Linked DNA regions of Homo sapiens. The protein of the gene in region 1 purifies or fractionates together with the protein of each later gene. This does not show direct contact. Each region holds a gene or a part of one and is shown in the gene's direction. Other genes may lie near its edges. The genes, in order: ETHE1, PPA1, CLIC4, POGLUT3, NIT2, CYB5A and SUCLG1.

Region 1 (3,500 bases):
TCTGAGACAAGGCAAGTCCCTCCCACCTATGGGCCTGTAAAATCAAAAGCAAGTTTAGTTATTTCATAGATACAGTGGGATCCAGGGATTGGGTAAATACATCCATTCTAAATGGAAGAAATTGGCCAAAATGAAGGGGCTGCAGGCTCCGTGCAAGTCCTAAATCCAGTGGGGCAGTCAAATCTTAAAGCTCCAAAAAGATCTTTTACTCCATGTCTCAAATCCAGGTCATGCTGATGCAAGAGGTGGGTTCCCATGGTCTTGGGCAGCTCTGCCCCTCTGGCTTTGCAGGGTACAGCCCCACTCCTGGCTGCTTTCACGGGCTGGTGTGGAGTATCTGTGGCTTTTCCAGGCACATGGTGCAAGCTCTCGGTGGATCTAACACTCTGGGTTCTGGAGGGCGATGGCCCTCTTCTCACAGCTCCACTAGGGGCAGTGCCCCAGTGGGAACTCTCTGTGGGGGCTCCCACTCCACATTTCCCTTCTGCACTGTCCTAGCAGAGGTTCCCTATGAAGGCTTCACCCCTGCAGCACACCTCTGCCTGGACATCCAGGCATTTCCATACAGCCTCTCAAATCTAGCTGGAGGCTCCCAAACCTCTGTTCTTGACTTCTGTTCACCAGCAGGCCCAGCACCACGTGTAAGCCACCAAGGCTTGGGGCTTGCACCCTCTGAAGCAATGGCCTGAGCTGTACTTGGCCCCTTTTAGCCCCGACTGGGATGCAGGGCACCAAGTCCTGAGACTGCACAAAACAGCAAGGCCATGGGCCCTGCCCATGAAACCATTTTTTCTCCTAGTCCTTTGGACCTGTGTTGGGAGAGGCTGCTGTGAAAACCTCTGACATGCCCTGGAGACATTTTTCCCATTGTCTTGGTGATTAACATTTGGCTCCTCGTTACTTATACAAATTTCTGCAGCAGGCTTGAATTTTTCCTCAGAAAATGGGTTTTTTTTTCTATCACATTGTCAGGCTGCAAATTTTCCAAACATTTATGCTCTATTTCCCTTTTAAACATAGGTTCCAATTCCAAACCATATCATTGTGAATACATAAAACTGAAGTGAATGCTTTTAACAGCACTCAAGTCACCTCTTGAATGCTTTTAACAGCACTCAAGTCACCTCTTGAATGCTTTCCTGCTGAGAAATTTCTTCTACTAGGTACCCTAAGTCATCTCTCTCAAGTTCAAAGTTCCACAGATCTCTAGGGCAGGGGCAAAATGCTGCCAGTCTCTTTGCTAACACATAACAAAAGTGACCTTTACCCCAGTTCCCAAAAAGTTCCTCATCTCCATGTAAGACCATGTCAGCCTGGACTTCATTGTTCATATCACTCTCGGCATATTGGTCAAAGCCACTCAACAAGTCTCTAGGAAGTTCCAAACTTTCCCACATTTTTCTGTCTTCTTCTGAGCCTTCCAAACTGTTCAAACCTCTGCTTGTTACCCAGTTCCAAAGTCACATTTTCACATCTCCTTATAGCAGCACCCCACTTTACTGGTACCAATTTACTGTATTAGTCTTTTCTCATGCTGCTAATAAAGACATCCCTAAGACTGGGTCATTTATAAAGAAAAAGAGGTTTAATGGACTCATAGTTCCACATGGCTGGGGAGGCCTCACAATCATGGTGGAAGGCGAAGGAGGAGCAAAGACCTGTCTTACATGGCAGCAGGCAAGAGAGAGTGTGCAGGGGAACTGCCCTTTATAAAACCATCAGATCTCGTGAGACTTATTCATCATCACGAGACAGCATGGGAAAAACCTGCCCCCATTATTCAATTACCTCCTGCCTGGTCCCTCCCATGACATATGAGGATTATGGGAGCTACAATTCAAGATGAGATTTGGGTGGGGACACAGCCAAACCATATCACCTTCCTAACCAGAGGTCAGATATTATTTGTATTTTTGTTGTTGTGTGTCACAGCTTTGCGGTTTTATTTTTCATGCATTTAAATCTTTAATCCACTTGGAGTTTACTCTGATAATATAAGATTACAGCCTGGGAATCTACATTTTTTACCAAAATGTTTATCTAGATAAGACCCTGGGGTAGGGTGGGGCTTTGGGGGCCAGTTTCATCTAGAAGGCTTCTTGGTGACTATCTCTGTACTCTTCCACCCCTGCCAGGCGTTGGAGACCAGGGCCAGCCCTGGCCACACCCCAGGCTGTGTCACCTTCGTCCTGAATGACCACAGCATGGCCTTCACTGGAGATGCCCTGTTGATCCGTGGGTGTGGGCGGACAGACTTCCAGCAAGGTGACCAGCTCCTTTATCCAGCCCAAGATCTTCATATAGTTACGTGTGTGTCAAGTGTTGAAGTATCTGTTACAAGAATGAATGGATGGACATTAGACTTTTAGGGGGCTTCAGTATTAAATTCAAGGAGTTTACCTGCTAGAACAGTGGTCCCCAACCTTTTTGGCACCAGGGACCGGTTTCGTGGAAGACAATTTTTCCATGGACCATGGCAGGGCATAGTTTCGGGGATTCAAATGCATTACATTTATTGTGCACTTTATTATTACATTGCAATAGATAATGAAATAATTATGTAACTCACCATCATGTAGAATCAGTGGGAGCCCTGAACTTGTTTTCCTGCAACTAGATGGTCACATCTGGGAGAGACGGAAGATAGTGACAGATCATCAGGCATTAGATTCTCATAAGGAGAACGCAACCTAGATCCCTCGCATGTGCAGTTCGCAATAGAGTTTGTGCTCCTATGAGAATCTAATGCTGCTGCGGATCTGACAGGAGGCAGAGCTCAGGTGGTAACGGGAGTGATGGGGAGTGGCTGTAACTACAGATGAAGCTTTGCTCACTCACCCACCGCTCACCACCTTCTGCACAGCCCAGTTCCTAACAGACCACGGACCGGTACCCAGGGTTAAGGACCCCCATGCTAGAGTATGGGAAGAGTTAGATTCAGGGGCTTAGCTGTTGGGGGACAGTTAGATTCAGGGGTGTGTTAGTTACCTATTTGAGCCCAGCTTGGGCAACATAGTGAGACTCCCTCTCTAAGAAACAAATATAGCTAAAAAAAAAAAAAAAACAAAGGGCTGGGCATGGTGGCTCACGCCTATAATCCCAGCACTTTGGGAGGCCGAGGCAGGTGGATCATGAGGTCAGGAGTTCAAGACCAGCCTGGCCAAGATGGTGAAACCCCGTCTCTACTAAAAATACAAAAATTAGCTGGCCATGGTGGTGGGTGCCTGTAGTCCCAGCTACTCGGGAGGCTGAGGCAGAGATTTACTTGAACCCAGGAGGCGGAGGTTGCAGTGAGCCAAGATTGCGCCACTGCACTCCAGCCTGGGTGACAGAGTGAGACTTCATCTCAAAAAAAAAAAAAAAAAAGATAAAAAAAGAAGTTGTTAAAGCCAGCGGTTTAATTGCCAGGGAGCAATGAATGATCCATTTGGAGTCTAGCTGCTAGGGGCAGTTAGATTTAGGAGCTTCCCTGTAGAAAGCGAGTATAGTTTCAGAATCTC
Region 2 (3,500 bases), on another chromosome or scaffold:
AGTAATAACTTTTTCTAATTTATTTTGCAGAAAATGAGAAAGGACAATATATATCTCCATTTCATGATATTCCAATTTATGCAGATAAGGTAAGGCATCCTTGTTTTTGGACACAGTCTCTTTACTCAGATCAGCTAGTTCTACATATGAATTTTCTTATATGTCTCTCAACAAGTGCTTAAAATGCCTCGTTGTGCTGTGAGCTAAAGGTCTGTTGATTAGGCTGGGCGTGGTGGCTCACGCCTGTAATCCCAGCACTTTGGGAGGCTGAGGCGGGTGGAGGGCTTGAGTCCAGAAGTTCAAGAACAGCCTGGGCAACATGGTGAAACCCTGTCTCTACAAAAAATACAAAAATTAGCCGGGCATGGTGGCATGTGTCTGTAGTCTCAGCTACTTGGAAGGCTGAGGTGAGAGGATCGCTTGTGCCTGGGAGGCAGAGGTTGCAGTGAGCCGAGATGGCACTACTGTACTCCAGCTGGGTGACAGAGTGAGACCCTGTCTCAAAAAAAAAGGTCCATTGACTAAATAAGAAGTTAGTCTTAAAACTAGATTATTTAGTTAAAGGAGCAAATATAATTTGGGGAAGGAGAGGAGGAGTAAAAGCAAAAGTATTTAATCTGTCTTGGAAAAAAAAAAGAAAAAATTACATTGGTCCTTTTTGTATGTGTATTTGGAACTAAAGTCGTAATACTTCATTACTGGTTCTAAAATAAACCAGGTAGCCAGCACAGAATTTTGGCTGTGGGATCTTTATGAAACAGTAAAAGTAAACTAGATTATTCAATGAGTATAGGAAAATTTAGTAACGGGCTAGTACCGTTAAGATTTGCACAGTTAAGATAGAGTTAATACAGGTAGGCACACAGACTTCTAAAAGGACATAGCTGTTCCTGTATACACCAGTGAGAAGAAACCTAACTTTAATACAGATTGGTAGGCTTACCACAAATTGTAAAAGTCTTTACTTTTCTAGGGGAAAAAGAAGTCTACAACTGTATACACCAGAATAGCTGAGTGTGGGGCAATTGTAATCCCACTTGGGAGGCTGTGCTGGGAGGATCACTTGAGTCCAGGAGTTTGAGACCAGACTGGGCAACATAGCAAGAACCTGTCTTAGGAAAATAAATAACAATAAAATATATATCAAAATAGTTATGATTCGTGGGACTGCCAGTGACTCTTGGTTTTATTTTCATTTTTGTCTTTTTATATTGTCTAATCTTTTTACAAAGAACATGTGTTATAAGAACAACTTTAAACAGTCATTTTAAAAAACACATCTTTTCTTACTCTCCTTTCCAATGGAAGCAGTTTGTACTGTATTTAGCAACTTAACACAAGGACAAATATCTTATTCTTTTTCTACCTTTCAGTTTTTTTCCTTCAGTAAGGAAGTTTGATTCACATTGAGTACAAAGGTTTTTGAGTTGTAAGAGTTACATAGGTTATTGACTTTCTTTAGCTAGATGTCAATATACAACACGAACATCACTTTGCAGTGCACGTCTAGAATAATAGTAATTTTGTTCTTGTGTGTGCTGTCTTACTGTTTTTCTGGGCCTGACTATTAGATAGAAATAGACACATTCATTGCACTTCTACCAGGAAGTTTGCTGCAGTTCTGTACTGCCTGAAATTCCAATTTTTACATTGCTTCCCAGGAGCCTTCCTGGGTAAGACTCCAATTAGAGGCAATGGAGCAAACAGCCCTAGGCCAATTATGTGCCACAAATACAGGAGGGACTTCTAATTGGCATGTGTTTTTCCTGTGGGAGTGTCAGAGTGGTATTTATTCAGAAACTCGAATTTGTTACATCTGATTTCCTGGGAGTTGATATAAACTGCAGAATCCTTCCCTCTTCAATTGGCCCCATTGGGTTGGCTTGAATTATCTGCTTGTTGTATAATAGCATGTATATCATACTGTAGCATCTCAGACCATTTTGAGCAATGAAGAGGTATAAAATGATGACCCTAAGTTTATTGATAATACCCTGGCATACAGGTATGCTACAGGTAGGAAAACATTTTCTTGACATAGAGCTATTTTCCCAGTGTTCTAAGTGACTGTATTCCTACCAAGGACCAGAATGATCATAGATGTTTTGGTACCTACTCTTATTGCTGCTTCAGGTTACTCCAAAATAGGAAACAGGCTACATTTTGGTGTCCTGTTAAGTGTGTTCACTTAGATTACTCTCAGACACTGAAGCCTTATAAGGGACTGGTTGTGTCTATAAAGTGGATTACTCAAAGGAAGACTCTGCCCTTGGCACGCCCTGTCCCAGCTCAAAAGCACAAGTTCTTATGACTCTGGATTTTACCAGTAGTCTAGACCTCAGTGGACCTTGGGCAGAAGCCTTCCTGCCTGAGAGGCTGGAAGGAATTCTTTTGTTTTGTTTTAAAGGAAGTTACTTGTTTAAAACACAAATAAAGGTGTGGTAGACATCATTTTGGATTATAGCCTTAAAAAAAAAATCTGATTAACTTGATTCATTAGAGTGTGATTTTCTTTCTTTTGTATAAAAAATCTATTGTGATTAAGTTTACATGAATACATTCTCACGGGCTTGGCCTTGGACTTTATTCCTAATATGGTCAGTCATCCGAGGGATTATAATGAGGGAATGTCATGATCTAGTGAGCATGTACCTTTAACACAGCTCAGTCAGCTCCACTAAGGAAAAATGTCCAAGGGCTCATATTGATATCAGACTAAGGAAAAATGCCCAAGGGCTCATATCCATATCAGACTTTTTTTTTTTTTTTTTTTTTTTTTGAGATAGGGTTTCACTTTGTCACTCAGGCTGGTGTGCAGTGGCATGATCTTGGCTTACTGCAGCTTCAACCTCTCAGGCACAAGTGATCCTCCTGCTCCAGCCTCCTGAATAGCTGGAACCACAGGCATACACCACCACGCCCAGCTAATTTTTCTATTTTTTTGTAGAGACAGGGTTTCCCTATGTTGCCCAGGCTGGTCTCGAACTCCTGGTTTCAAGCGATCTGCCCACCTCAGCCTCCAGAAGTGCTGGGGTTGCAGGCGTGAGCCACTGTGTCCAACCCATATCAGGACCTTTTAATGTGGATATTCAGTTTGGCATATGCCATTAGGTAATCAGTCCAGCCAGTTCTGGAAAATCTTGTGACTCGCGTACCCTGCTTTGATTATTTCCGAATCCAGTGGGTAGAGAAGGTAAAGGCAAGGGCTCACTGGATATTTTTAAATTGTAGGGATGTCCTTTGCTCTGGGTCAATTTTAGGATCAAATATAAAAGCACCTATAGCTCAGAGTATCTTCTAACATAAAACTTCTGAGATACCAGAAATTTTCCAAAACATGGTATAAACAGTATGAAACACTGGGTAGATAAAAGCTTTCTCTAAATCTTAAAGTGCTCAAATATCATGACCTGATTTTTTAGTTTTAGAAATCAGATATTTTTCTATTCCATATCTTAAACTTTCATGTTAAATTCTAGTTCTGACAATGTAGGGTTCTA
Region 3 (3,500 bases), on another chromosome or scaffold:
CCACTGTGAACTGGGATGATCACTGTCAGCAAGTAGTCACCAAGCTGCTGGGATTGGGGTGGTGTTTGTAAAAAGTTAATCTGGTGCAGGGTGGCATAACACATAAGAGTCTGTTTCTTTTGAGATATTTGGCAGAGGTTCCTAATGTGCTTGGACTCTGGAGCCACACTGCTTGACTTGAATCTGGCTTCTAGTATGTCAGGCAAGTTTTTAAGCTCTCAGTGCTTCAGTTTCCTAACTTCTAATATCAGGATAATAATAATAGCAATTTTATATGGTTACTGAGGGGATTAAAACTGTTAATCTGTGCATATTAGTTAGGGTAGTTTAAGTTGCTGTAATAAGTTATCCCCCCACAAACAGTGGTTCAAATATGATGGAAGTTTATTTCTCACCCCTCAGTCCAGGAGAATGTCTTAGATGTTAGGGTGGCTTTCCTCCTCAGAGTCATTAAGGGACCCGGGCTCTTTCTAGCTTATTTGTCCACTAACTCCCAGAGCATTGTCCTCTTCTGAATTGTCAAAGTTGGTGGGTGACAAGTACTGTCTGTTGCCAGTGGGGGGTGGAAAATATGGAGGAAGCACATCTTAAGGGCCCCAGCTCAGAAGTTCTACCTGTTACTTCCGGTCACATTCTATTGGAGAGAACTTAATCACATAGCTTCATCTGCAAGAGAGGCTGGCAAGTGTGGTCTAACCGTATACCATCCTATGTAAAGCTTTAGGAAGAGTGCTTGACACATAGTAAACACCTGCTTTTGTCATCGATAATAGTTTATTATTATTATTTTTTTTTGAGACGGAGTCTCGCTCTGTCGCCAGACTGGAATGCAGTGGTGCAATCTTGGCTCACTGCAACCTCTGCTTCCCGGGTTCAAGCGATTCTTCTGCCTCAGCCTCTGGAGTAGCTGGGACTACAGGCGCGTGCCACCATGCTCAGCTAATTTTTGTATTTTTAGTAGAGATGGGGTTTCACCGTGTTGGTCAGGATGGTCTCGATCTCCTGACCCCATGATCTGCCCGCCTTGGCCTCCCGAAGTGCTGGGATTACAGGCGTGAGCCACCGCGCCCAGCCTAATAGTATATTATTTTTAAATGTGGGCTCTATTAGTAGGATCAGGGAGTTCTGTAAATCCTTGAAATTACAGTAAAAAATTCTAATGTGAGGCTTTTTTTCTGGAAATTCCTAAACCAAGGCTAAGAACCACTGTTCTAAAAGAAGTAAATAGTGGAATTCTTAGAGTCAAGAATACTTTATATAAGCAAGGTATAAAAGAAGGGCTTGGGCTAGATGATCACAAAGGTCTCTTCTAGTTATTATTAACTATGACTTAAAGAATGTACCGGCATGAACTAAGTGCTAATACTGAGTTAAGTACTATGGAAGATATAAGAAATTATTAAACAGTTAATTTCTTTAGGTTTACAAATTTTATTGGAAAGAAAACAATACAAGATGGTCCATGCTTAAAGAGTCAAGTGGGGCTCACATTAAGTAGGGCTAGGAGACATGGGGAAAGATGGAAGGAGGCTTAAACTTGACCTTGAAAAAGGAGGTGAATAGGTGGGTTCGGAATAGCCAAGAATGGGAATGTGAGTTTTGACATTATGTGGAAACTCCTTATGCAGGAAACAATTGGTAGATTGATACCTAAGAAGGAACCAGGAGTGATTCAGATCTATAGTGCCAGGGAGACAAGTTATTTAAAAGTTGAGGATGAGACTTTTAAAACCTAACTTGGGTTTTTGTTAATGTATACATTTTCCTAACTTTTTTCATTCTCCCCACACTTTCCTGTGTTTTTGGATTGCTGTCTGTTTAATAACTTTTCAGTGGCACTTGGGAAGGTGCAAATGGATTGTACAGATGGACTGTTTTGACAGTTTAAAGTGGGAATTCTTTATATTGTTTCAAGGACAGGCTTCAAACTTCCCCCCGTCTTTGTTTTTTCTAACAGAAAAAAATGAAATAAATTTTCTATAGGAAATGATGCTGAAAACTGTTCTGGTAATTAACAAAAGCTAACTCAATATTCAGACAATATTACCTTGAATCTAATTGATTTGCCATTCATTTGAGGTTTCCGGGGGGAAAATTCAGGAGACAGAAATGAATGTAAAGTATGAAGTTAATGAAAACCTATTATTTTAACTTTTTGCCTGAGCTGTTCCTGAAGACCTAATAATGCTACTTTTGGCAAAGGCCAAATTTGATGATTTTGGTTTAATGTAAAAACCTGTGAGAAAGGAGCCTAGAATGGGGAAGAGGCAGGAGGCTTTGAGCCTAGGAGACTGAGCACACGAAAAGCTTAACAGAGTATGAATAATGATAGGAAAGAGGCAATTGGGAGAAGAACCTGGCTGTCAGGAAATGTCACAGTTGGTTTGGGAAGATGCCTGCAGAGGTGCCTAGAAGCCAGTAAGTAAGGATGGTGAGCCATCCTTTTCCGCTTCCTGTTTCGTTAGAGCTGTGGAGCCTCCGTGTTCTGATGTCCCCTGAGTAGGGAATTGTGAGTCCATAAAAGGAAAATGTGTTAGGCAGGATGGGAAGTGTGATTAAGGCATGAGTTAAGATTTTGGTCAAGTAGAGGAGTAAGCTAGGATGGGTTTGCCTGTTTTAGACGCTTGCATAGAGAATGGAAAGGGACTTTCTGAAGGAAAATGACATTAGGTCATGGTTACCTATTGTCCAAGGATGATTTAAGACATGTAAATGTAATTTAGGGCATCAGCTAGTGAATTTTCTCATGGCTTTTAATTATATTGTCTATTTCGAGACTTGCCTCTTATCTCTCAGTGGTCAGTTCCAGATATTGGTATAAGAAATAAGAAATAACAATGATAGGCCCACTGCCATGGCTCACACCTGTAATCCCAGCACTTTGGGAGACCGAGGTGGGTGGATCGCCTGAGGTCAGGAGTTCAAGGCCAGCCTGGCCAACATGGTGAATCCCTGTCTCTACTAAAAATACAAAAATTAGCTGGGCGTGGTGGTGGGCGCCTGTAATCCCAGCTACTCGGGAGGCTGAGGCAGGAGAATTGCTTTAACCTGGGAGGCGGAGGTTGCAGTGAGCTGAGATTGTGTTACTACACTCCAGCCTGGACGACAGAGTAAGACTCCGTCTCAAAAAAAAAAAAAAAATTATAGGCTGGGCAAAATAGTGAGTCCTCATCTCTATAAAAACTAAATTTTTGTATTTTTAGTAGAGATGGGGTTTCACCATGTTGGTCAGGCTTGTCTTGAACTCCTGACCTCATGATCTGCCCGCCTCGGCCTCCCAAAGTACTGGGATTACAGGCGTGAGCTACCACTCCTGGCCCCATCTCTACTAAAAATACAAAAATTAGCTAGGCATGATGGTGCACGCCTGTAATCCCAGCTACTCAGGAGGCTGAGGCAGGAGAATCTCTTGAACCCGGGAGGCGGAGGTTGCAGTGAGCTAAGATCACACCACTGCACTCCAGCCTGGGCGACAGTGAGACTCTGTCTCAAAAAAAAAA
Region 4 (3,500 bases), on another chromosome or scaffold:
ACTTAAACCACCTTTTGTTCTTGTTTCTGATCATACAGGGTGAAGGATGGAGGTGGGCAATATTTATCTTTCTTACTTAGAGAGACCATAAAGGGAGTTTTTTTGTTTGTTTGTTTGTTTGTTTGCTTTGAGATGGAGTCTCACTCTGCCACCCTGGCTGGAGTGCAGTGGCACGATCTCGGCTCACTGCAACCTCTGTCTCCTGGGTTCAAGCGATTCTCCTGCCTCAGCCTTCTGAGTAGCTGGGATTACAGATGCACGCCATGCCTGGCTAATTTTTGTTTTTTTAGTAGAGAAGGGGTTTCACCATGTTGGTCAGGGTGGTCTCAAACTCCTGACCTCGTAATCTGCCCGCCTTGGCCTCCCAAAGTGCTCAGCATGAGCCACTGCGCCTGGCCAAGGGAGTTTTATAAACCAAAAAAAACACAGTTTTCCTGATATGTTATACAATTCCCCAAGTATGCTGACTGTGTGGCTGCAGTCAGTTCTTACTTTAAATAGCAGTCCCCAACCCCTCCACCACCAGCCCACAATGTGAGGATACAAGCATGTGATGGGCATCTGCTCCTAAAGGTAGTGCTCTCTTCCCGGGCTACAACTAGTCAACTGTGCCCTGTATTCTTGCCTCTTTAATCCATGTTGCTGGCTTCATAGCAGTAGATTTCAACCAGGGATGATTTTGCCCCTCAGAGGACATTTGCCAATGTCTAGAGACATTTTTGGTTGTCACAACTCAGGGGTTGCTATTATCATCTAGTGGGTAAGCATCCTACAGTGCAAAGGATAGCACCCCCCAACCCCATCGCAAAGAATTATCCAGCCCCAAATGTCAATAATATGAGCTTGAGAAACCCTACTCCACAGTGAGCACTTCCAATGTGGAGTTTATTAAAGAGTTTATAAATAATAGCAGGGAGGCTGGGCACGGTGGCTCACACCTGTCATCCTAGCACTCTGGGAGGCTGAGGCAGATGAATCATTTGAGGTCAGGAGTTTGAGACCAGCCTGGCCAACAAGATGAAATCCCATCTCTACTAAAAATACAAAAATTAGCCGGGTGTGGTGGTGCGTGCCTGTAGTCTCAGCTACTTGGGAGGCTGAGGCACAAGAATCACTTGAACCTGAGAGGCAGAGGTTGTGGTGAGCCAAGATCACGCCACTGCACTCCAGCCTGGGTGGCAGAGTGAAACACTGTCTCAAAATAATAATAATAATAATAATGACAGGGAAGCAAGAGGGTGAATATTCACATCTCTTGCCCTTTCCTTTTGTTCTTTGCCCAGTGGCTGGGGAAGAAATAAATCTAAGATAAGTGAGACTCAGTCCTAGTCTCTGAGTAGCCCACTGTAGTGGGATTTGTTTTTGTTGTTTGGAAGTGGGGGTGGGATGTGAATACAAACAAATAATTATATCCCAATATGATGATAGGCCTCAAGAGAATTAAGTACCTAGGGTTTAAGTGCCTGAGGAGGGTGAGTCATAGAAGAGGTGGTGTTAGATCTGGGCTTGGAGGATGAGAAAGGAGACTGCCAAGTTAAATAAGTAAAACATTCCAAGTGAATGGAATTACATGTTGAGGTGGATGGCATTTTCAGAGAGTAGCCTAAGGTTTCCTGGTAGGTGGGCAGATGAAAGATGAGGCTTATAGCCAAGCTGGGACAAGATTGTGAGGCCTTGAATGCCAGCCAGAGAGTTGAGATCTTGTGCCATAGGCTTAAGGTTCTGTTAAGCTTGGTAGTGACATTAACAAAGTTATTTTAGAAATTTTAGTTTTAGAATTAATTTTAGTTTTGGAAATCTGAGCAGCCTTGTGGAGAGCAGATTACAGTATGGAGAGCCCAGAATCAGAACACCTAGTAAGGAAGTTATTGCAGCAATCTAGGCAAGAAATGATGAGAGTCTAAACTGAGACATTGACCGTGGAGATGGAAATGGACTGGCAGGTTCCAGAGGCAAGGGCACATGAGGCAAAGATGGGGACAGTGAAGGAAAACAAGGGTTTGGTTCTAACTTTGTAGATTCTCTTGCTTAGGCAGCTGGCAGAGGGTTATCGAAGCTATTCATTCTTACCTCTCTACACAATTTTCACTTCTCTAACACTACATTTTATTTTATTTTATTTCTTTTTCTATTTTTTTGGAGACAGAGTCTTGCTCTGTCGCCCAGGCTGGAGTGCAGTGGCGCGATCTTGGCTCACTGCAACCTCTGCCTCCCAGGTTCAAGCGATTCTCCTGCCTCAGCCTCCTGAGTAGCTGGGATTACAAGTGCCTGCCACCAGCCCAGCTAATTTTTGTAAGTTTAGTAGAGACAGGGTTTCACCATGTTGGCCAGACTGGTCTTGAACTCCTGACGATCCACTCGCCTCAACCTCCCAAAGTGCTGGGATTACAGGTGTGAGCCACCACGCCCAGCCTCAAACACTGAATTTTACATGCATCTCTGGACAGAGGTAGCTGACTCCTGGTTAAGTGAATTTGTCATGCAGGATCCTCACAGGTGACAAATTCACAGCCATCCTGTCAATGACAGGCATTCTTCTCTCTTCTCTGTTTTTGAATGGTTAGCCCTGTCAAAAATATGTAAGAAAACCAAAGAACTGTTGTACTTAGTACCAAAGACTGAGATCTTCCCAGCACTGATGTTTGTTTATATGTTTATTTAGGTCCTTCTCCCAGATTTAGAATTTTATGTTAATCTTGGAGATTGGCCCTTGGAGCATCGAAAAGTCAATGGAACCCCTAGCCCCATACCTATCATTTCATGGTGTGGCTCTCTGGATTCAAGAGATGTTGTCCTTCCAACGTATGACATCACCCACTCCATGCTTGAAGCCATGCGGGGTGTTACAAATGATCTCCTCTCTATTCAGGGAAATACAGGTATTCAGGGAAATGCAAGGCTAATTAATGAAGAAAAAGCTTAGAGACAGAGTGGGTTATACATATATGTTTGCATTCAGTAGCATATTAGAAAAAGTCTTGTACTGAAAATTCTGACCAACCTAGGGATTAAAGATTTGTGGATGTTCCTCAGTTATATAGTTTTTTCTGGTCACCCTTTGTAAGAACAAAGGGCTAGCTCACGTTTTATTGTGAAACACAGAAAATGGAAGAAGCTAATGCCTTGGTGAGTGGACCCAGTCACTGAATCTCTTTTTTGCTTTGAACACGGTCCGACATTATTTCAGGTATTTCCTAGTATTATACAACAGAATACACGAATACTTGCGTGAGCTTTCACTAGCAGACAAATGGATGAAATTAGAGCATTCTTTTACATAATACAGCAAATAAAAAGACTGTTTTTTTTAAACTCTAAACTTGAAAGTGCTTCTGGCAAATTGAGACTCAATCCCATATTTTCGTTGAAATAACATCTACTTTAGAAGATGAGTTGATAAAAGAGCTTTAGCATCTTAAATGACAATGGTAGATTAAAGAGGATTATGCTTGCCATATTAAAATGTCAAATTCATAATCCTAATTTTTTTATGGCTTCAA
Region 5 (3,500 bases), on another chromosome or scaffold:
TATATCACACATGTATTAGGGTTTTGACTGATTGGCACAGGTGGTTATTCTTGGCCATTTGCATTTTTATATAAGTTTTAGACTCAGCCTGTCAATTTCTGCAAAGGAACAAGCTATAGTAATTTTTTTTTTGACAGAATCTCGCTCTGTCACCCAGGCTGGAGTATAGTGGCACAATCTTGGCTCACTGCTAGCTCTGCCTCCTGGGTTCACACCATTCTCCTGCCTCAGCCTCCCGAGTAGCTGGGACTACAGGTGCCCACCACCATGCCCAGCTAATTTTTTGTATTTTTAGTAGAGACTTGGTTTCACCGTGTTAGCCAGGATGGTCTCAATCTCCTGACCTCATGATCCACCCGCCTCAGCCTCCTAAAGTGCTGGGATTACAGGCATGAGCCACCGTGCCCAGCCAACCTATAGTAATTTTTATTAGTATTTCATTGAATATATAGAGAACACTGTGGGAAGAGTTGCCATCTTTTTAGTATTAAATGCGTATACATGACCAGGTGCAGTGGCCCATGCCTGTAATCCCAGCACTTTGGGAGGTCTGAGTAAGTGGATCACCTGAGGTCAGGAGTTCAAGACCAGCCTGGCCAACATGGTGAAACCCCATCTCTACTAAAAATACAAAATTGGCTGGGTGTAGTGGTGCACACCTATATAGTCCCAGCTACTCAGGAAGCTGAGACAGGAGAATTGCTTGAACCCAGGAGGTGGACGCTGCAGTGAGCCAAGATTGCGCCACTGCACTCCAACCTGGGCAAGACAGAGCAAGACTCCATCTCAAAAAAAAAAATCATATACATTTAGTATCATTAAGTCTTCTTGATGAGTTGACCCTTTTATCATTATGAAATATCTCTTTTTTTTCTTGTAATACCTCTTGTCTTGAATTCTGCTTTATCTCTGCTATCACTATAGCCACTCCAGCCTTCTTATGCCTAATGTTTGCTGGTACGTGGTTTTTCCAGTTCTTTGTTCTCAAGCTATATGTGTTTTTATATTTTAAGTGGATCTCTTTTGTCAACAGCATATAATTGTATCTTAATTTTTTCTTTATTCTGACAATCTGTGTCTTTTAATTGAAGTGGTTAGTCCATTTATATTTAATGCACTTATTGATATGATTGAATTTAGGGATAGAGACATTTTACTTTTTTTTCCCTTTGTTCATCTTTTCTGTATTATTTTGGATTAATTGAATATTTTTTAGAGTTCTGTTTTAATTTATCTATTGGCTTTTTAGTTATACATCTTAGCTTTTTTTTTTTTTCCAGTTGTTGCCCTGGGAATTATCATATGCATCCTTAACTTTTCACAGGCTACTTAAGAGTTCATATTATATCATTTCATGTGAAATTTAAGAACCTTATAATGATATAGGTCCATTTTTCTACCCCACTGCCCCTGCCCTCATTCTTTATGCTATAGTTGTCATTTGTATTCCATGTATATATGTTATAAATCCCACAAAACAGGAATACTTGATTTAAATAGTCATATGTATTTTAAGGAAATTAAGAAGAAAAAAATCTTTATGTTTACCCAAATATTTATCATTTCTGGTGTTTTTCTTTCCTTCCTGAAGATCCTCCTTCTATCTGGTATATCCTTCAGACCAAAGGATCTCATTTAGAATTTTTGTTCTGAGGATCTGTTAGCTAGGAATTCTGTTAGTTTTTCTTTATGAATATATCTTTACATTGTTTTCATTCTTGAAAGATATTTTTGCTGGAATAGAATTTTGGATTGATAGTTTTCCTTTTTTTCCACTAGTAGTTGTTATCTAGCCTTTTTTTTTTTCTTCCCTGATGAGAAGTGAGTAGTAATTTGTATTGTTCCCTCGGATATAATTTGTTGTTTTTTCTCTCCTTCTTTCAAGTGTTTTCATAATCTTTAGTTCTTAGTATTTTGACTCTGATATGCCTAGATGTGGTTTCCTTTGTCTTTGCCTTCCTTGGTACTTCTTGAAACTGTAAATTTAAATCTTTCACTGTGTTTGGGAAGTTTTTTGACACTATTTTGTTAAATATTTTTCTGTTCCTTTTTCTTATGGAGCTCCAGTATATGTATATTATATTTTTAAATATTTTTCCAAGGTCACCAGGCTCTGTTTTTCTGTTTTTGTCTTTCCAATACTTTTTCCTTCTCTTCTACAGATTAGATAATTTCTGTTGATCTTTCAGACTTATTCACTGTTTCTTCTGTCTTCTTCAATTTCCCGTAAGCCAACCCAGTGAAATTTTAAAAAATTGAGATATTAAAATTTTCAGTTCTGAAATACCCCTTTGCTTCTTTTTTATAGTTTTTATTACTCTATGATATTTTCTATTTGTTCATTAAAAGCATATTTTTCTTTACAGTGTTGAGCTTAGTTAGTTTCTATAGCTGCTTTAAAGTCTGATAATTATCACATCTGTGTGCCACAGAATGAGACTATTAGGCCTTTAAAAGGCCCCTGATGTAAATAAACTCATATCCAAGCAAACAACAAGAAAAAAATTATAACATCTGGGTCATGGCAGGATCTGTGTTCATTTGATTGCCTTTTCTTTGCAGTTTGGATCACACTTCTGTTTCTTTGAGTATCTACTAATTTAAGATTGTACAGTGGATTATATATTGTAGAGATTCAAGATGCTATTACAGTCTTCCAAAAAGTGTTGAATATTTTGTTTTAACTGATGGTTAACTTGGCCGCACCCAAACACCAAACTCTTATCTTCTTTGAAACGTGGGCAGCAACTTTAGCTGCTCTGTTCTATCTGGTTGTTCTGCCCCACTTCTATTTAACTCAGTGATCAGCCAGAGATTTAGAAAGATTTTATATGCAGAATTTAGGGCTCTCCCTCTTTGCTTTCTCCATTTCAGGATTTCCCCCCTTGGTTTCCAGCTCTGGTTCTTCAAGCCAGTGTGATTATGGGTCATTTTCACCACTACTTATCACAGCAACTGGGACCTTGCTTCAGGGTAGCAGCTGTAAATAGCACCAGGAAGTTCACCCAGGGCTGTTCCCTGCTTCCACATGTCTGTGTTCTTCTCTTCAGATTTTGTCTGCTTTGTTTTGGTCATTCTTCAGTGCTTTAAGTAGTTGTGCCTTTTATTTTGTCCAGAGTTCATAGTTAACCACAAGAAAACTGGTCTGATAGGAGCTACTGTGTACCTGCTGGAAGAACAGCCAGCATTGGACTATTAACCCAACTCTTTGAAGTATATCTTTTTAGTATTAAGTTTTCCAGTCCATGAATGTGGTATATATCCTGACATTTATTACGCTTTCTTTACTTTCTCTCAATTTCTTTTTATAGTTTTTTGGGTATAATTTTGTTTAACATTTGTGAGATTTATTCCTCATTGGTGTTTTTAGATGCTCTTTCATTTTCTGTTTTTGTTTTTGTTTTTTTGAGATGGAGTCTTGCTCTGTCGCTTAGGCTGGAGTGCAGTGGTGTGATCTTGGCTCACTGCAACCTCCACCTCCCTGGTTCAAGCTGTTCTCT
Region 6 (3,618 bases), on another chromosome or scaffold:
CAAGTGATCCGTCTGCCTTGGCCTCCCAAAGTGCTGGGATTACAGGCGTGAGCCACTGAGCCCAGCCAAGTGGGGCATGAGTTTTCTCATAAAGCCAGCAGGGCAGAGTGATTCCTAGTATAGCAGGGCATGTGTTACACTCATGTCACTTTTAGCAAATCCACGTTGCCTTTTCAGCAAAATTCATTACAGAGTTAAGAAAAACATGCCCTGGTAATTTTCTGTTAGAAGGAGCAAAGATTTTGAGTCCACCACAGTGCACATCATGTCAGCATCATTGCTTTTTGTGTCTTTCTAGTTGGTGGACCAACTGGGTGATCCCTGCCATCTCTGCAGTGGCCGTCGCCTTGATGTATCGCCTATACATGGCAGAGGACTGAACACCTCCTCAGAAGTCAGCGCAGGAAGAGCCTGCTTTGGACACGGGAGAAAAGAAGCCATTGCTAACTACTTCAACTGACAGAAACCTTCACTTGAAAACAATGATTTTAATATATCTCTTTCTTTTTCTTCCGACATTAGAAACAAAACAAAAAGAACTGTCCTTTCTGCGCTCAAATTTTTCGAGTGTGCCTTTTTATTCATCTACTTTATTTTGATGTTTCCTTAATGTGTAATTTACTTATTATAAGCATGATCTTTTAAAAATATATTTGGCTTTTAAAGTATGCACCGTGTTTGCCTGTTTGGTGTATAATTGTCTTTAATGTTTAGAATCTGGTTATTTAGAGGATTCCTTCAATGTGTTACTCATCCAGACCCACAGAGGCCATATGACTGGAGGTGCGGGAAATAGGTTTGAGTGTCTCCTTTCACATCGTCACATCTCATTGAGTAACCATGTATTGTATGCTTCCGATATAGTTTCTTTTTTTCAAGGAAATTAAGAAAGGCCAGAAATTATAGTTTAAGGATTTCTAATAATTGTCCTACTTGAAATAGATCTTAAAAAGAAAGTAGCGGCTGGGCATCGTGGCTCACACCTGTAAGCCCAGCACTTTGGGAGGCTGAGGTGGGTGGATCACTTGAGGTCAGGAGTTCAAGACCAGCCTGACCAACATGGTGAAACCCTGTCTCTACTAAAAATACAAAATTAGCAGGGCGTAGTGGCGCATGCCTGTAATCCCGGCTACTTGGGAGGCTGAGGCAGGAGAATTGCTTGAACCCAGGAGGCAGAGGTTGTAGTGAGCTGAGATCGCGCCGTTGAACTCCAGCTGGGCAACAAGAGTGAAACTCTGTCTCAAAAAAAAAAGAAAGTAGCCTACAGGGCCTATAAGAGAGACTTCTTATCTTCACTGATTGAAAAACATCAGCAACTTAAAAACACATGAACCATGAGAGGGCATCGCAACTGTCCATTCTCTCAGCTTACACGTATCATTGCAAAGGCACTCACAGCTTCATAGGTTCTAAAGTTTTAAGAATTCCTCATTCAGAGAGTAGAATTGTTTGTAAACTCTTCTAAGGAAAGGCTGGTTTTCTAATTTGTAAGGAGATTGTGGGACATTGGAATCTGATCTTTGAAGAAATTTAGCGGCTAGTGTCAAGCTCTGAAGAGTTCTGGTGTGGCTCTGTCTCCTCCTGGGGGCTCTAAGGGGCTGATTCAGTCATCTTACTTCCCATTTATTATTCTCTGCCTTATGTGTTATTCTTTTAAATGTGGAAACTTGAAAGCTGAATTTGTTAGAACCCAGTACATGTGTCATTGGCTGTGACTGCATTTGCACTGGCATGAGCTGACAAACCACGAGGTTCTTCAGAAGTGACCGCGTGCAGTGGAAAGGAATTGTGTTGTTCTTACAGAGTACAACCTTTATAATCAAATAGGATGCACCGCCTTTGCCTTCTTTAGTCACTGAAAGTTGACAAGTAGTTTCTATTTCAAAATAAATTACAACACTTGTTAAGGGACCTATGTAAATATTTCAATATTTTTGGTTGTGATTTTTAGCTATAAAGCTTCACATTTTAGTAGTTTTTAAAACATTGCTCCTAAATCAACTATGAAGTGAATCGAAGTGGGTCAGTCGTACCTTAGATGACATTAAAGGGTTAACTTGTAAATCATTTTTAAGATGTTGAGTAATAGCATCTGTATATCGTTAAGAAACATAACAGTTGAACTTTGACATTTTTATCAGTGACTCAGCAATTTGCTGCTGTGGCTGGCAATGTTTCTTCATGTGTTTTGGGAACAACATGTGGAGTAAAGGAGAGTTTACTTCCTAATTTTAACATTTACAGTTTGTGCAGCCAGACTCTCAAGGAAAGATATTTGACACTTTTTTCTCTATTGCTTTCCCTTCAGAGAGGTGAGAGACTTCAGAGGCTGCCCTTTCTTTTCATCTGCTGCTTGTGAAAGGAAAACATCTTGGGCCCCCAGAATCACTAAGGAAAACTCAAGCTGGAAACTGCTTAGGGCCAACCTGCCTCCCATTCTACTCAGTCAAGCCTCTGCTCACTGAGAGAGAGGCATATCTGATTGCTTCCTTTGGAAAGGCTAATCAGAAACTCAGAAGAATGCAACCCTTTGTGTCTCACCTCTCTGTGACCTGGAAGCTCCCTCCTGCTTTGAGTCTTCCTGCCTTTGCTTCAAGGTGTCCCGCCTTTCCAAACAGAACCAATGTACTTCTTACATATATTGATCAATGTCTCATGTCTCCCTAAAATGCATAAAACCAAGCTGTGCCCTGACCACCTTGGGTACATGTCATTAGGACCTCCTGATGCTTTGTCACGGGCATGTCCTCAACCTTGGCAAAGTAAACTTTCTTTTTTTTTTTTTTTTGTTTTTGAGACAGAGTCTCACTCTGTCGCCCAGGCTGGAGTGCAGTGGTATGATCTTGGCTCACTGCAACCTCCGACTCCCAGGTTCAAGTGATTCTCCTGCCCCAGCCTCCTGAGTAGCTGGGACTACAGGCGTATGCCACCATGCCTAGCTAATTTTTTTGTATTTTTAGTAGAGACGGGATTTCACCATGTTAGCCAGGCTGGTCTTGAACTCCTGACCTCAGGCAATCCACCCGCCTCAGGCTCGCAAAGTGCTGGAATTACAGGCATGAGCCACTGTGCCGGGCCTATTCCTTGACTTTCTTAATAAAGTTGTTTTCACTTTGCACTGCGGACTTGCCCTGAATTCTTTCATGTGCGAGGTCCAAGAACCCTCTCCTGGGGTCTGGATTGGGACCCCTTTCCTGTAACACAGGGACTGTATTGGGTGCACGTGTGTCAGTTGCTCACCTCCTGGGTTTGAGTTGATGATTAGGGCTCTGGTTGGAACAGGCATCTCCCTTCCTCTGGAGGTGTCTAGATGAAGGCAAGTGGAAGTTCTGGAAGCAGATTCTCCTTTGCAGCGTAGCCTTTCTGAGAGGTGTGCAGACACAGATGGCGTCCGGATCCTCAGCTTCTACCTAGATTGTGGGAGTTTCCCTAGGCTGCTGTAACCAAGTACACCACAACTGGGTGGCTTAGAACGACAGAAATGTGTTCTCATAATTTAGAGGCCAGACGTTGTAAATGAAGGTTTCAGCTGGGCCACTCGCCCTCCGACACTCTGGGTGGAATCCTTCCTCACCTCTTCCAGCTGCCACTGGTGGCCAGCAGTCCTCACCTGGCGGT
Region 7 (3,500 bases), on another chromosome or scaffold:
TCTATTATGGCTGATTTTATAACCTCAAAATATAGAGAGGAGATGTTTTTTTACAATTCCTCTAGGTTGACTTTTCTTTTGTCATGAGCCTCTTTTTGCTTTTTTTTTTTTTTTAAAGAAAGTTCTTCTTGCTAAGCAATCCATTTATAATTTATAGTGACACAAATAGTTGTGACATTTGGAATATTCTATAAGTTTTTTGACAGATATTGTTTATTTTTCACCCGTTCTGCTCTTACAAAGGGCTTTTTGAATGAGTAGGGTTGGTACCTTTCATCCATATGACGTCCCAGCACAATATTTGCTGTTGTCACAGTATAGCTTCTGGCAGTATTTGTAGACTTTAGAGGTAGAAAACTATGTAATGTAGGTACTTTTCATTAAAGTACCTACATCCCCATGATGTGACTTTTTTTGATTCCATACTAGTTTTAATGTTTTTTGTGTCTCCCCCTCTGTTATCATCTTGAACAGAGTTTTAAAAAATTATTTTTAACCCCCGGCATCATTTGTGGATGATATGTTGGCATTCTTTGACTCTGTTCACTGTCAGGCTGCTTTCAGATTTACTGACATGCCATAGAGAGTGAGATGTCACAGAAGCTTTCAATTCACAGTGGCATTCAAATGGGCTGAGAAAGGGCTATGCTTGATTCTGTTCTACTCTGACAGTGTAGCAAATTTGAGAATGGGAAGAATGCTATGTCTCTGGGTAGTGTCCTTTTCTTACCCCAAGACATTATTAAAATGATGGTATTGAATTTATTTTACAATGTTTATGATTTAACAAATAATAAGGTGCTTCGTCGTTAATGTTTCAGGCCAAAGAACAGACAGGAGCAACGGCTTCTGTCATTTATGTTCCTCCGCCTTTTGCTGCTGCTGCCATTAATGAAGCTATTGAGGCAGAAATTCCCTTGGTTGTGTGTATCACTGAAGGAATTCCCCAGCAGGACATGGTACGAGTCAAGCACAAACTGCTGCGCCAGGAAAAGACAAGGCTAATTGGGCCCAACTGCCCTGGAGTCATCAATGTGAGTGCAAAAAAACAAAAAGAAACTCAGATTAAGCCTCTCACAAGGCTAAACAGCTTTGAGTGAATGCGAGTGTATTTGTGTGTATGACCTGTGAGTGACTTTTTTTTTTAACATTTCTGAAAACTATGATTACTTTCAGCCTGGAGAATGTAAAATTGGCATCATGCCTGGCCATATTCACAAAAAAGGAAGGATTGGTGAGTTTGTTTGTTACATTCTTATAGATTAAAACGTTATTTGCCTTAAACCCTCAAAACTCACAAAGAATTTTTGACTTTGCAAATCAAGTTTAATTAATTTGACTTGAGTAGAATTTACCAGGGAAGTTTTGTAGTCTATCAATTCTGTATCTTGAATATAATGAGTTTATTTGAGAAGCCGTTACAATTCTGCAGAATCAGTGAAGATTTTTTTGGTGGTGGGAGTTTAAAGATTTTTTTCTGCTCAGCACTCTGTGGATTACTCCATGTGTTTGCATATATCAGTAGTTAATTTCATTAACTGTTATAACTTAGTTATTGCTAAGGAGTATTCTGTTGTATAATTATACCACAGTTTGTTTATTCATTCTCCCATTAATGAACATTTGGGTTGTTTTCATGTTTGAGCCTTACAAACAAGGCTTAGGTCAACATTTGTGTACAGGTCTTTTTGTGGAAACATTTTCGTTTCTCTTGGGCAAAATGTGTAGGAATGGAATTGCTAAGTCATGTTCATATGAACATAAGTCAAGTATATTTAACTTTATAAGAAACTGCCAAATAGTTCTGCAAAGTGGCTATATCATTTTATATTTTCACCATTAATGTAGGAGAGTTCCACTTGCTCCATATCTTCACAAAGATTTGGTATTGTTAGTCTTCATTTTTTTGAGACAGAGTTTTGCTCTGTCGCCCAGGCTGGAGTGCAATGGCTCGATCTCGGCTTACCCCCACCTCCGCCTCCCAGGTTCAAGTGATTCTCCTGCCTTAGCCTCCCGAGTAGCTGGGATTACAGGCATGCGCCACCACGCCCAGCTAATTTTGTATTTTTAGTAGAGACGGGTTTCTCCATGTTGGTCAGGCTGGCCTCGAACTCCCGACCTCAGGTGATCTGCTGGCCTCGGCCTCTCAAAGTGCTGGGATTACAGGCGTGAGCTACCATGCCCGGCTATTAGCCTTTTTAAATGTAGCCATTCTACTGAGAGTAAAATGGTATCTCTTGTGGTTTTGAGTGTCCCTGATGACTAATAATGTAGAGCACCTTTTCATGTGCTTATAAGGCCATTCACATACCTGCTCAATAATTACCTTGTTCTTTTAGATATCACAAACTTTCTCAAAATGTTTTAGGTTTGTAGGCACCTTAGAAAGCAGGGCAGTGATCAGAAAGGGAACTCAGATGGCCTGTCAGGAAAATTGCCCTGCTACTTGGTTAGTTCCTTGAGGAAATAGCCAAAGTAACATTTCAAAGTTAGCCACATTAGGCTTGTGTTTAGGCTTTACACCAAAATTTCTCTAAACTATACTGTTTTTCAGTCATGAAAGATGATTGACCATATTTTTCTCTATCTATAAACCATGGCTACTAATAAGGGTAATTAATTGTCACAGTGGGTGTCGGCTGTGCAGTTTACAGAATTGGGTTAAAGATCATGATTTTTCTTTATTACCAATGTCTCTTGGAGCTGTCAGCCCTGCTGCCAGTGGCAGTACTTGATAATTTCATTTACAAGAGAGATTTCAGGGAGCTCCATAGGCCATCTGAGTTCCAGTGGGGCCAGATCCATGTATCACTGATGCTCTTGTACATATTTGAATATTTCTTATATTCTTGGGTCTGTTTTGAAGGCTGTGGTCTTAAGGTGAGCATGGAAGGAATGCTCTGTGCTGAGTTGCCTTTCTGATCACTGCTCTGCTTTCTAAGGTGAGCATAAACCTAAAAAATGAAAATCAAGAGAAGTTCAGGGAAGTCCTTTAGACCTTGCCTTTGTGAATGGTCATAACCCATTGATGAGACAGTCGTCTGGGAGACTGCTTTTAATTCCTTTGAAAAAGGACTTTTTTTTTTTTTTTAAAAAAAAGAAGAAAATATGTGACACTGTGTCCAGAGTTGGTTCCTTCCAGTGGGTTCTTGGTCTCGCTGACTTCAATGAAGCCGCGGACCTTCGCAGTGAGTGTTACAGCTCTTAAAGGTGGCATGGACCTGAAGAGTGAGCAGCAGCAAGATTTATTGTGAAGAGTGAAAGAGCAAACCTTCCATGGCATGGAACAGGACCTGAGTGGGTTGCAGCTGCTGACTGGAGTGGCCAGCTTTTATTCCCTTATTTGTCCCCTGCCCGTGTCCTGCTGATTGGTCCATTTTACAAACCTCTAGCTACAGAGCGCTGATTGGTGGGTTTTTATAGAGCACTGGTTAGTGCATTTTACAAACTTCTAGCTAGCTACAGAGCGCTGATTGGTGCGTTTTACAATCCTAGCTACA

What was found.
Region 2: the proteins of ETHE1 (region 1) and PPA1 fractionate together in Homo sapiens (co-fractionation; one large-scale study listed by BioGRID). This does not show direct contact.
Region 3: the proteins of ETHE1 (region 1) and CLIC4 fractionate together in Homo sapiens (co-fractionation; one large-scale study listed by BioGRID). This does not show direct contact.
Region 4: the proteins of ETHE1 (region 1) and POGLUT3 fractionate together in Homo sapiens (co-fractionation; one large-scale study listed by BioGRID). This does not show direct contact.
Region 5: the proteins of ETHE1 (region 1) and NIT2 fractionate together in Homo sapiens (co-fractionation; one large-scale study listed by BioGRID). This does not show direct contact.
Region 6: the proteins of ETHE1 (region 1) and CYB5A fractionate together in Homo sapiens (co-fractionation; one large-scale study listed by BioGRID). This does not show direct contact.
Region 7: the proteins of ETHE1 (region 1) and SUCLG1 fractionate together in Homo sapiens (co-fractionation; one large-scale study listed by BioGRID). This does not show direct contact.

The regions. Positions count from the first base shown.
Region 1 is NC_000019.10:43,510,202-43,513,701, reverse strand, and holds part of ETHE1 (persulfide dioxygenase ETHE1, mitochondrial), read left to right. Parts: intron 1-2,135; coding exon 2,136-2,265; intron 2,266-3,500. UniProt on the Homo sapiens protein: Sulfur dioxygenase that plays an essential role in hydrogen sulfide catabolism in the mitochondrial matrix. Hydrogen sulfide (H(2)S) is first oxidized by SQRDL, giving rise to cysteine persulfide residues.
Region 2 is NC_000010.11:70,226,930-70,230,429, reverse strand, and holds part of PPA1 (inorganic pyrophosphatase), read left to right. Parts: intron 1-30; coding exon 31-89; intron 90-3,500.
Region 3 is NC_000001.11:24,751,947-24,755,446, forward strand, and holds part of CLIC4 (chloride intracellular channel protein 4), read left to right. Parts: intron 1-3,500. UniProt on the Homo sapiens protein: In the soluble state, catalyzes glutaredoxin-like thiol disulfide exchange reactions with reduced glutathione as electron donor. Can insert into membranes and form voltage-dependent multi-ion conductive channels.
Region 4 is NC_000011.10:108,481,385-108,484,884, reverse strand, and holds part of POGLUT3 (protein O-glucosyltransferase 3 isoform 1 precursor), read left to right. Parts: intron 1-2,662; coding exon 2,663-2,879; intron 2,880-3,500. UniProt on the Homo sapiens protein: Protein glucosyltransferase that catalyzes the transfer of glucose from UDP-glucose to a serine residue within the consensus sequence peptide C-X-N-T-X-G-S-F-X-C. Can also catalyze the transfer of xylose from UDP-xylose but less efficiently.
Region 5 is NC_000003.12:100,341,257-100,344,756, forward strand, and holds part of NIT2 (omega-amidase NIT2), read left to right. Parts: intron 1-3,500. UniProt on the Homo sapiens protein: Has omega-amidase activity. The role of omega-amidase is to remove potentially toxic intermediates by converting 2-oxoglutaramate and 2-oxosuccinamate to biologically useful 2-oxoglutarate and oxaloacetate, respectively.
Region 6 is NC_000018.10:74,250,346-74,253,963, reverse strand, and holds the end of CYB5A (cytochrome b5), read left to right. Parts: intron 1-298; coding exon 299-380; 3' UTR 381-3,118; downstream 3,119-3,618.
Region 7 is NC_000002.12:84,438,781-84,442,280, reverse strand, and holds part of SUCLG1 (succinate--CoA ligase [ADP/GDP-forming] subunit alpha, mitochondrial precursor), read left to right. Parts: intron 1-821; coding exon 822-1,034; intron 1,035-1,176; coding exon 1,177-1,234; intron 1,235-3,500. UniProt on the Homo sapiens protein: Succinyl-CoA synthetase functions in the citric acid cycle (TCA), coupling the hydrolysis of succinyl-CoA to the synthesis of either ATP or GTP and thus represents the only step of substrate-level phosphorylation in the TCA.